Homo sapiens: one gene and its partners. The protein of the gene in region 1 interacts with the protein of each later gene in a pairwise test. Each region holds a gene or a part of one and is shown on either strand. Other genes may lie near its edges.

What was found.
Region 2: the proteins of DUSP6 (region 1) and PHB2 interact in binary tests that used the Homo sapiens proteins (3 or more experiments, as listed by UniProt).
Region 3: the proteins of DUSP6 (region 1) and TXK interact in binary tests that used the Homo sapiens proteins (3 or more experiments, as listed by UniProt).

The regions. Positions count from the first base shown.
Region 1 is NC_000012.12:89,350,464-89,354,213, reverse strand, and holds the start of DUSP6 (dual specificity protein phosphatase 6), read left to right. Parts: upstream 1-1,712; 5' UTR 1,713-2,174; coding exon 2,175-2,574; intron 2,575-3,188; coding exon 3,189-3,626; intron 3,627-3,750. UniProt on the Homo sapiens protein: Dual specificity protein phosphatase, which mediates dephosphorylation and inactivation of MAP kinases. Has a specificity for the ERK family. Plays an important role in alleviating chronic postoperative pain.
Region 2 is NC_000012.12:6,964,766-6,967,753, forward strand, and holds the end of PHB2 (prohibitin-2), read right to left. Parts: coding exon 2,911-2,988; intron 2,842-2,910; exon of another isoform or gene 2,572-2,841; intron 2,571-2,571; coding exon of another isoform or gene 2,518-2,570; exon of another isoform or gene 2,484-2,517; coding exon 2,406-2,483; intron 1,736-2,405; coding exon 1,659-1,735; intron 1,152-1,658; coding exon 1,146-1,151; intron 948-1,145; coding exon 920-947; 3' UTR 562-919; downstream 1-561.
Region 3 is NC_000004.12:48,127,647-48,131,396, reverse strand, and holds part of TXK (tyrosine-protein kinase TXK), read left to right. Parts: intron 1-3,750. UniProt on the Homo sapiens protein: Non-receptor tyrosine kinase that plays a redundant role with ITK in regulation of the adaptive immune response. Regulates the development, function and differentiation of conventional T-cells and nonconventional NKT-cells.

The DNA of each region.
Region 1 (3,750 bases):
AAAGCGCGGCCTCTTTTCCGCCGGGGTTTAGGGAGGGAAGGCCGGATTAGGGCCCGCGCCTTCCGGCTGCATCCCTCTCGCGCCGCGCCGGCCGCACACAGGTGGTTTTCCGCTCGGGAGGGGCAGGCTTCGGCACTTTTATATAACAATAGAGCTCTGCGCGCCGGGAACGCGCCTCCCCGCCGCCGCGGCCCCCACCCGGCCACGCCTCCATCCGGCTTCCAATCCGTCCGCCCCGCGGCGCCTGGGCCGAGTGCTGCTCGCTGGCCTGGCCCGCACCTCCCCAAAGTTACCTGCTGGCTTTGCAGCGCGGTAGAGACGTTCCCCTCGACTCCTTGGGAGCGAGGAGCCAGGGGGGTCCCGGCAGGCACTCGTCCTTGCTCCCCCCACCCTCCCCAGATCTCTATGGACCCGGGAGTCCCTCGCTGAGCCCCGCACCCGTCCACTGCGTCGCGCACAGCCCCGTGCCCAAGCGGGGAGACGGGGACGGCGGGGCGGTGGCAGGGAGCGCAGCGCGCAGGCGCGGCTGGTGCTCCCCGGAGTGCCCGGCGCTGGACAAAGGGAGGAGGCGGCGGCAGGAGAGGGCTGGGGAGGCCCCCTCTGACATGCCTCCCTGCCAACTGTAACCAATCGTCGAGCCCCCCTGCCGAGCCCCCGCAGCCTGCAGGTCTTGCGGGAGGACTTCCTCACGCCTCGCCCATGGCGGGGACTGCTGGCCCGGCCCGGCGCGTCCCAGCACACCTCGCTCAGGCAGCCCCGCCAGACCGGCTCCCCCGTCAGAAGCCGAGCTCCTTGCCCAGAAATCATTAACCAGCGCGACCTCCCAGCAGGCGATGGTGGTGGTGGGGCGGGGGGAGAGATATAGATTCCCCCGAACAATGGCTTGTAACTCCCCACGCCGCCGGAGCGGAATACAGTAAAAGCACTGGACTGACCTAAGAGTTTGTTTCTGCACTCTACATTGTTTTAATGAAAATAAAATGTTATTTTAAGAAAAAAGGTTTTCTTCTGATTTTCTGCACAACCAGACGTTTGTTTGTTTGCTTTAAAATGTTTCAACAAAATCCTGGTTTGTTTCGAAATATGTTGGATTAGCATTTAACACCTCATCGGTCACTAAAGCCCAGTCAGTTCACCAGCCCCAACACAGCCTCGGCTAAAAGAACATCAGAGCAAACAGAGCTGGGCCTTTAAAAGTGGCAAACAAATGCCACACACCGCCTAAAGAAGGGGGGTTGGGGGAGGGGAGGGTTAAGGCGAACTTGGGTCCAAATGAGTTTGAAGGGAATACAAAGAACGAAAAGTCAGCACAAGTTTTCCTAAAGCTAGCTCGCGAACGCAAGCGTCGCGAACAAGGGCTTTTGTGCATGCTAATTGCGCCATTGGTGCGCAAAAGTTCCGACGCGAAGTGTGAACTCTCAACAGAAGGAAACATGAGACAACTGAAGTGCCCTGGTTTATGTGCCCTGCTCCTCCTCCGCTGCCGCCTCCCCTTCTTTCTCCTTCCTCCCGCCGAGCCCGCTGTTGCAGCTTGTTTGCACTGGGGCTTATCCGGAGCGGAAATTCCTTTCCGTTTTTGTGAATGACAAACTCATTAACAATTCATCAACACAACCTGTTCCAGCCGGCCCGTCCCCACGGCAACAGCCCCTTCCGCAGCACGCTCATTGGCTGGCCCGGAGAATGTATCCATTGAGACGCTCGCTGTTTGTATCCATTGAGGAGCTGCCTCGCGCAGGGGGTGTGCGAGGCTGAGTCCAAGAGATAGCAAATCGAGTCTTAAATAATCCGGGGAGAAAGACGCCCGGGTAGATTTGAGGTGCAGCCTTGGAGGGAGGGATTAGAAGCCGCTAGACTTTTTTTCCTCCCCTCTCAGTAGCACGGAGTCCGAATTAATTGGATTTCATTCACTGGGGAGGAACAAAAACTATCTGGGCAGCTTCATTGAGAGAGATTCATTGACACTAAGAGCCAGCGGCTGCAGCTGGGTGCAGAGAGAACCTCCGGCTTTACTTCTGTCTCGTCTGCCCCAACCGCTAGCCTCGGCTTGGGTAAGGCGAGGCGGAATTAAACCCCGCTCCGAGAGCGGCAGCTTCGCGCGCGGTGCGCTCGGCCTATGCCTGCCCCGAGGGGCGTCTGGTAGGCACCCCGCCCTCTCCCGCAGCTCGACCCCCATGATAGATACGCTCAGACCCGTGCCCTTCGCGTCGGAAATGGCGATCAGCAAGACGGTGGCGTGGCTCAACGAGCAGCTGGAGCTGGGCAACGAGCGGCTGCTGCTGATGGACTGCCGGCCGCAGGAGCTATACGAGTCGTCGCACATCGAGTCGGCCATCAACGTGGCCATCCCGGGCATCATGCTGCGGCGCCTGCAGAAGGGTAACCTGCCGGTGCGCGCGCTCTTCACGCGCGGCGAGGACCGGGACCGCTTCACCCGGCGCTGTGGCACCGACACAGTGGTGCTCTACGACGAGAGCAGCAGCGACTGGAACGAGAATACGGGCGGCGAGTCGGTGCTCGGGCTGCTGCTCAAGAAGCTCAAGGACGAGGGCTGCCGGGCGTTCTACCTGGAAGGTACGCGCCCAGGGAACTCCGCGCGCGGGGCAGGGCTAGGGGCGCAGGGCTGCGGGCGGGGCGCGTGGATTGAAAATACCTCTGCTCCGCTCAGCTGGAGCTTCGGAGCCGCGCTGCCCGCCTAGGGACCGGCAGCCGGCGAGGTAGGGGCCGCGAACCGCGCGTTCCGCACCAGAGAACCGGGCCGGCTCAGAATCCACTCGCTTCCGGCTGCGGGTACCGGCGGTTTCTTTCTAACGGGTTCTGCGCCTTCTTAGCCAGAACATCCTCCACCATCACCCTGTTTTCTATCGTTCGATTTTGAATTAAGATTTGCAGGACGGGAGAGATTGTTGGGGATGCAAATTGGCACATCTTAGCTCTCAAAATATTCCAAAAAGTTGCCATTTTGTCTATTTCCGGATTCAAGCGAATAAGGGTTCCCTGGCGAGGCGGGCCCGTTCGTTCCATTCCCGATGGTGCACATTTAAAGTGTGTTTCTCTTATAGATGGTTCTGTATGTAGGGGGTTCGTAGGATGCTTGTGGTGTTTCTTGCGCCGGGCTGCGGTTCTTACAAGCTGTGAAAACTACTACGGCTTCTCAGGTTAGATGATTGCTTTTCTCGTTCTGGCAGGTGGCTTCAGTAAGTTCCAAGCCGAGTTCTCCCTGCATTGCGAGACCAATCTAGACGGCTCGTGTAGCAGCAGCTCGCCGCCGTTGCCAGTGCTGGGGCTCGGGGGCCTGCGGATCAGCTCTGACTCTTCCTCGGACATCGAGTCTGACCTTGACCGAGACCCCAATAGTGCAACAGACTCGGATGGTAGTCCGCTGTCCAACAGCCAGCCTTCCTTCCCAGTGGAGATCTTGCCCTTCCTCTACTTGGGCTGTGCCAAAGACTCCACCAACTTGGACGTGTTGGAGGAATTCGGCATCAAGTACATCTTGAACGTCACCCCCAATTTGCCGAATCTCTTTGAGAACGCAGGAGAGTTTAAATACAAGCAAATCCCCATCTCGGATCACTGGAGCCAAAACCTGTCCCAGTTTTTCCCTGAGGCCATTTCTTTCATAGGTGAGACTAATTAATAGTCGTCGCTCTGACATTTAAATGCAAAATTCCTAGCCATTCATAGAGTTTAAGCTGTTAATCGTTCTTGCTGCTTGCTAATTTGTCTGACTGCAGGTCTCTAATGTTC
Region 2 (2,988 bases), about 82 Mb from region 1:
ATTCGGGAAGGCCTGTCTTGGGAAGATAAGTGTCAGCTTATCTGTGGACTGAACAGACAGGCACCTGTTCTGTTGGCCCCGGAACTGCGGGCATGAAAAGCCCACCTCCCCAGGGGAGGCCTGTTAGCTAGCAGCTCCTCACGCCTGGTGACTGAGAAATGGAGTCTGGGGGGCCTACAGCAGGCCACGCGATCCACTGGGCTTCTGGGCACAGAAGTGCCTCAACAGGCACAGGCAGGCTCCCCACAGCCACAAGGAACCCTGCTGCCAAGGAAGCAGCTCCTGTTGGGGTCATCAGATTTTTAATCTGGCTCAGCAAAGCCATGGCTGTCCAGCCTTAAAAAAATGGGTGATGTGGGAGAAATGGAGGGTGTGTGAAGAGCACAGCTGGGCCTCGAGAACTCAGGGCCAGCCTTCCCAGCTTGGGTCCTGTTTCGGAGCCCAGGCCTTGCTTCCCCTTAGCCGCCCCAGCCAGATTCTTTTGCGCCCCCTGCTGGCACACACAAAGACAGACCCAGGAGCGCACATGTGAACGTGCGCATGCTTGCTGCCAGTTACCCAGTTCATGAACACGTGAAGCCTTGACTTCAGGTTAAGTAATAAAAATTTATTGAGAATTCCTGGGTTGGTGTTTATCTCCTCCCAGCCTTGAGGGAGGGAACAACACTGTAGGAAATCACTGAGAAATCACGCACTGTCCCCAACAGCCCCAGTTAACACAGGGAGGAGGAAAGTAATTCCCCAGAAAAGGGGCTAGTCTTCAGTCTTCCTTAATCCAAGAGGGGTTCAGGGAACCGGTGTGGGGGACCATCGCATGATACTGGGGCGGGGTAGGGCTGTGCTGGACCCCTGGCTGGCTCCTCAAAAACTGGAGAAGCAGATCCACTTCCTCTGGGGGTGGAGTTCTTGGTGACTAGGCTCATTTCTTACCCTTGATGAGGCTGTCACTGTAGGAAAAAAAAGATAGATAATGACATTATTAGGGGACATAAATGTGAGAGGCAGGACACTCTAGGCCATTCCCTCTACGACCCTCCTACCCTGATTGAGGGTTTGTCTTCGGGGAGGTGGGAAAGGGGGTAGGGTAGGAGGCGGGTACTGGAGAAGGTGGCCTGCAGGACCCCACAGAAGCAACAACAGCTTACCTTCCCCTGTGGTGCCAGATCGCCAGATGAACAAGAAACAGAGAAGAGAAATGCACATGTTAATTGACAGCTTCAGGCCCCACTCAGCTTTGAACCCTCCTTTGCTCCCAAGAGAAAAGATAAACAGGGTTGACAGCCAGGAATCTCAGGCTCATGAAAGGAGGAGGCATGTTCTCATGGCCACTGCTATTTCTCATCTCCTTTCCTAACATCCCTCCATTCACCAGAGGAGTTTGAGGGCTCTTGAGTAAGAAAACTGAGTATCATCTTTCATCACTTTTTGGTTAGATGAAAACTTTATAATTAAAGTGCTTTTTATGTGAATAATCCTATTTGATCTCATAAAATCAATCCTATGAGATGCAAGATAGAAACTGTCAACCACCCCCTTTTCTAATTTTGGTTCAATGTCTCTGAGCCATATGAATAGCTGTAGCAGGCTCCAGAGCCCAAACAACCAGACTCAGGTCCCACGTTCTTGGTGATACCCCACAGTGTGGCCACATCTCTCACCTGGTGAAACTTTCATCCTGTAGGTTCAGCACAAGGTTGTCAGCTGTGAGATAGATACGATTCTGTGATGTGGCGATCTACAGGGCAGGAAATAAGACAGATGCTTGCATTAAGCAAAGACCTCAATTCCGACCCCTGCAATTCAGCAGCTACTTAACATGGAACACATGCAGATTAGGGCAGGGGTGCAGCAATGAGTAACACATGGTTTCTGCTCGCACTTAGGGATCCAGAGCGCTGAGCAGCAGCTATGATTAGAACAAAAGGTCAGGGAACCCAGAGGAATCATTCTTGACAGGAGGAGTATCGGAGAAGCCAATTTTTTATTTATTTATTTTTGAGACGGAGTCTTGCTCTGTTGCTCAGGCTGGAGTGCAGTGGCATGATCTCAGCTCACTGCAACTTCCGCCTCCTGGGTTCAAGTGATTCTCCTGCCTCAGCCTCCTGCGTAGCTGGGAATATAGCTAAACGCCACCACAGCGGGCTCATTATCTTTTGTATTTTTAGTAGAGATGGGGTTTCACCATGTTGGCCAGGCTGGTCTCGAACTCCTGACCTCAGGTGATCCACCCACCTTGGCCTCCCAAAGTGCGGGGATTACATGCGTGAGCCACCGCGCCGGCCAGAGAAGCCAATCTGAGTAGAAACCGGAACAAGCAAGGTTCGAATTCCCTCACCTCAATGTGCCTTAACTGAAAGCACTTTCTCAAGGCAGCCCCATCAGAGACGCTGGGCTGACACACTCACCGTCTTGGAGATATTCTGGGCTGCTCGAATCTTGCGAAGTTTGATGTAGCCAGGGTTCTTGCTCAGTGCTTCTCCAAGGTGAGGAGGGTTAAGGTACACGCAAGGGCAGGTCTCAATCCCTGGCCCTGTCCTTACCACACTCCCTTGCTCCAGTCCTCCTCTGGGCTGTCAGATCCAAGGTTGCGCTCAGGTGGCTTGTGCCCAGCCCTACCGTGGACCCCACCTGTGGGCCTCCCTGCAGGCTGCTGCCAGGAACTAGGGGCAGCACCAGAAATGAAGGCAAGGCCACCAATGCTATTGATCTGGCCTTACAGTGGGGAGTCATGGCTCAGGTACTACCACTAAGATTTCAGATCTCATCTGTAGTCCCCACCCCCAACAAGGAGCCAAGGGCCAGAGAGCACGGAGTCGCATTCGCCTTAGTCTCATCAGCCTGCCCATGAAGGAGAATGGGGAACTCAGGTGCCCTAGGGGCTGGGCTGAGATCTCTCCAGCAGAAGGATATCATCTTGGCAGCCTCGGCCTCACCCTCGGCCTGCACAATTTTCTGCCGCTGTTCCTGCTTTGCTTTTTCTACCAAGAA
Region 3 (3,750 bases), on another chromosome or scaffold:
AGTAAGCTGTGACTGCACCACTCCACTCCAGTCTGGGTGACAAAGTGAGACCCAGTCTTTTAAAAAAAAAAAAAAAAAAGTTTATATGTTTGTTAGGGTCATTTGCCAAAAACATTTGTTGTTTTAAGCATTGTCATAGAATCCTGGCTTCAAAGGCTGCTATAGGGTGGGAGAAGATAATTGTGGAGCGTGGGATATTGATCATACTGATGGGAGATTTGGAGTGGGGTCTCAGGGCACTGCTCCAGTGAGATTCAGTTTGTGAAACGTACTTGGTATTGCCAGCATTTCCATCAACTCACAGTTGCCCTGAGAACAGATCCAGCCTAGAAGAGTTATTTAAAGGACAGGGCAAGGGAAAGCAGCTGGGGGCTTAAAGAATTCACCTCTTAGCTCCCCTGTTTGCCTAATTTCTCTGCCTTTCTTTATTCCCAACTTAGAGAGTAGAAAGAGTGGTTTCTAAGTCTTGGTGTGCCTGAAGCATGCCTGGGGTGCTGTTAAAAGGCAGGTTTCTGGGCTCATCTCCATAACTGGATCTGAGGGTAAAGTAAGGATGTTTTGGTCACACTGCCTTTCTTGGGCCTCTCTTTTCAGAGTCCTATCTTACTCCTTTTTGTATCTGATTCTCACACCAACTTTGTTAGGTCAACACCTTCCATTATTACTATTATGAATATGAAGATAAGGAGGGTAGCTGTGGTAGGCAGCCTCTAAGATGGCCTGATGATATCTGCCTCCAGATATTCACGCCCTTAGGCAGTCCTCCTCCTTGAGTATGAATTGGACCTAGTACCTCACTTCTTGTGATTAGAATATGGTAAAAGTGATGGAACGTCACCTCTGAGACCAGGTTACAGAGGTGGCGGCTCCCATTCCTGCGATCTCGGGCTTTCTGTCTCCTGCATCGCCGGCTGCTTTGTTGGGAGCACTCTCAGGCAGCCCGCAGAGAATCCCCATCACGAGAAACCGAGGCACCATGACCTGCTTGGAATTCGCTTAGAAGTGTATTCTCCAGCTCTGGTTGGGCCCAGCTTGACTGCAACTCCATGAAAGATCTGGAGACACAAGCACTCAGCTAAACCATTCCAGAACTCCTGGCCCACAAAAGTGTGAGATAAGTGTTGTAAGTCATTTGGTCTCAGAATAATTTGTTTCCAACAATAGATAACTAAGTGTGTGGCAAAAGCAGGAGAAGCCGCAGATTAAAAAAGAACTTGGCCACTTTGGCCACCCTTCTGCCTGGGGCTGGAGTTTGATGCCCTTTCTGAAAGATTAAAATGGACACTAGATGTGTCTTTTCTTTTGTCTTTAAATCATTTCAGTTTTTAACTCGTCACTGCAGCTGCCTTTTGTAACTACTGCAGATCCCCACATTTCTCCTCTGTGGAGCTCCCCAGGCCAGCAGTGCCCACACTCCCTGCCCACCGAGGGTCAGTGAGCAGTACGGCTTCTGGCCCAGTGCCAGCCACGCCCGTGTGCCTTGTGGCCAAGCACTTCTTCACATCACAAGCTGGCTCGATGTCTTGGGTGTGATGTCTGCGAGCTTATTATGAACTTTGAGCTCACAGAAAACAGTGTTCTAGGAAACACTGTTTTGAGATGTGGGGGAGTGGGGAAGTTGTGGGCAAGGTGCCTGCAAAGACCAACTCACATCAGCCCCTTCTGAGAAAGAAAGAAAAATTGCCTCATAGACCAAACAAGGGTTTGGGTGGCTGCTGTCCGTGTCTGGGGAGTTGCCCTGGCAGAAGCTGGGAAACAGATGAGCGGTCATCATCAGGAAGATTTCTGCCTTTCCTTACAGCACCTTTTACTCCCAGAAACATTGTCTTCCCTGGTGCCCGGGACTCCATCCAGCTTGCCAGGCTTCTAGAATCTCCTCACCCCACACAGCACCCCTTCAGGCCATAGACAGGTCAAGCACCACTCTTCCACTCAAATTGATCAGTTTGGTGTCCTGTTAGCTAGGTACTTGTTTTCTCTTAGTCACCAGTGACTCCCCTAAAGTAGTTATCCTCCCTTCTTTAAGGTTTCACTGGCAGTATAATGTCAAAAAAACAGAACAGTCAAGGTCTAACACAAATTACTCACTTATTTTATCCATACATTTAGAAAAACTAACATCTCTGGAGACCATCACTTCTTAGAATAATGGACATTTTAGTATCAAAAGGAAAAGTGCACACACGTGCGAACACAGACACAGGATCACTTCAGACCCCAAATGTATAAAGGGCATAAACTCAGAATAAAGGATAACTTTCTAAATTGAATAAATATGTGAAAAACTCAATGTCCCAATTTTACTATTTTCCCCTCTCCTTGGTGTGGGGTCTTGGTTTGGTGTCTAACTCCAAACCAAGAAGTCTAACTCCAACTTGGAAGTCTTTTCTAACTCCTGTTCAGAGGTAGAAATCCATCCATGCTATAGCCAAGCTAGTTATGTGTCACTCTCCCCAGATAATATGGGTTAATGTGGCTAAAACGTGCCTATCTTCAAAAGGCCCTTAAGAAATGGGGCCTTTTGAAGATAGGCTGGGCGCGGTGGCTCACGCCTGTAATCCTAGCACTTTGGGAGGCCGAGGCAGGTGGATCACGAGGTCAGGAGATCGAGACCATCCTGACTAACACAGTGAAACCCCGTCTCTACTAAAAATACAAAAAGAAATTAGCCGGGCGTGGTGGCAGACACCTGTAGTCCCAGCTACTCGGGAGGCTGAGGCAGGAGAATGGCGTGAACCCGGGAGCAGAGGTTGCAGTGAGCTGAGATCGTGCCACCACACTCCAGCCTGGGAGACAGAGTGAGACTCCATCTCAAAAAAAAAAAAAAAAAAAAAAGGATGTAGTGGTGGGCATTTATGGCAGAGTAATGAGGAAGTTTGGCCTTTCTGTAAATTTCTGGAAAAAAAAACAAAAAGGATATGTTGCAGCAAACTTACAGAATCAGCTCTGGTCACCCAGAGCCATTTTTCCAAAGCCACAAGTTTTTAAGGCTTTCCCCACTCACCACAGCCCATCAACTGCAAAAGCAGCCGGTATCAGACATTCCTCATCTTAAAACCACAACCTGGAGCGCCTGGCTTGGGCAACAAGCCTGGTCTTTGGGTTAAGGCAGCTCTCAAAACTGAGCCAGTTTCAAGCCATGTTTTTAAATATAAATCACTAGCCATGTGCCAGTTATTATGATGACCAAATTCAGTAGGAATGCATTTCACTCAAGGCACTGATTCAAAACGAAACCCTGACATCGGAAATGCCAGGGGATGAACTGGAGGTGACGATGTAAACTTCAAAACATTAGACATGAGGAAGCGACAGCGGCTTTGCTTCCCGCGCAGCCCGGGCCCCACAGTTCTTCACATCTGTTCCTTTGTCCTCTTCAGAGATGACCTTAGGAGCTATTCTGAGAAGGGGTGCTTCTCACTTTTGCTTTCTTCCAGTGCCCCCTGGTGGAAACCTGTTCCCAATCAGCCCAGCTGTTGCCACCCAGGAACCTCTGGGGGTGGAAGGAATGTCAATAGGAGCCTCTCCTAGAGGACAGAGGGGCGCAAATCCTTCCAAGGAAAAAACACAAATACCAAAGATGGGAGGGCCAACTGCCTATCCCATGACAGATGTGCCGGTTTCTAAAGGTCACAGAGATTACATCTGATGCGATGCCCTTTTTCTGATTTGCTGGCCTGAGGCTCATCATTAGAGATATTTACTGAGGAATGAGAAGTAGATGAAAAGAACAGCGCAGATGTAAGCCTG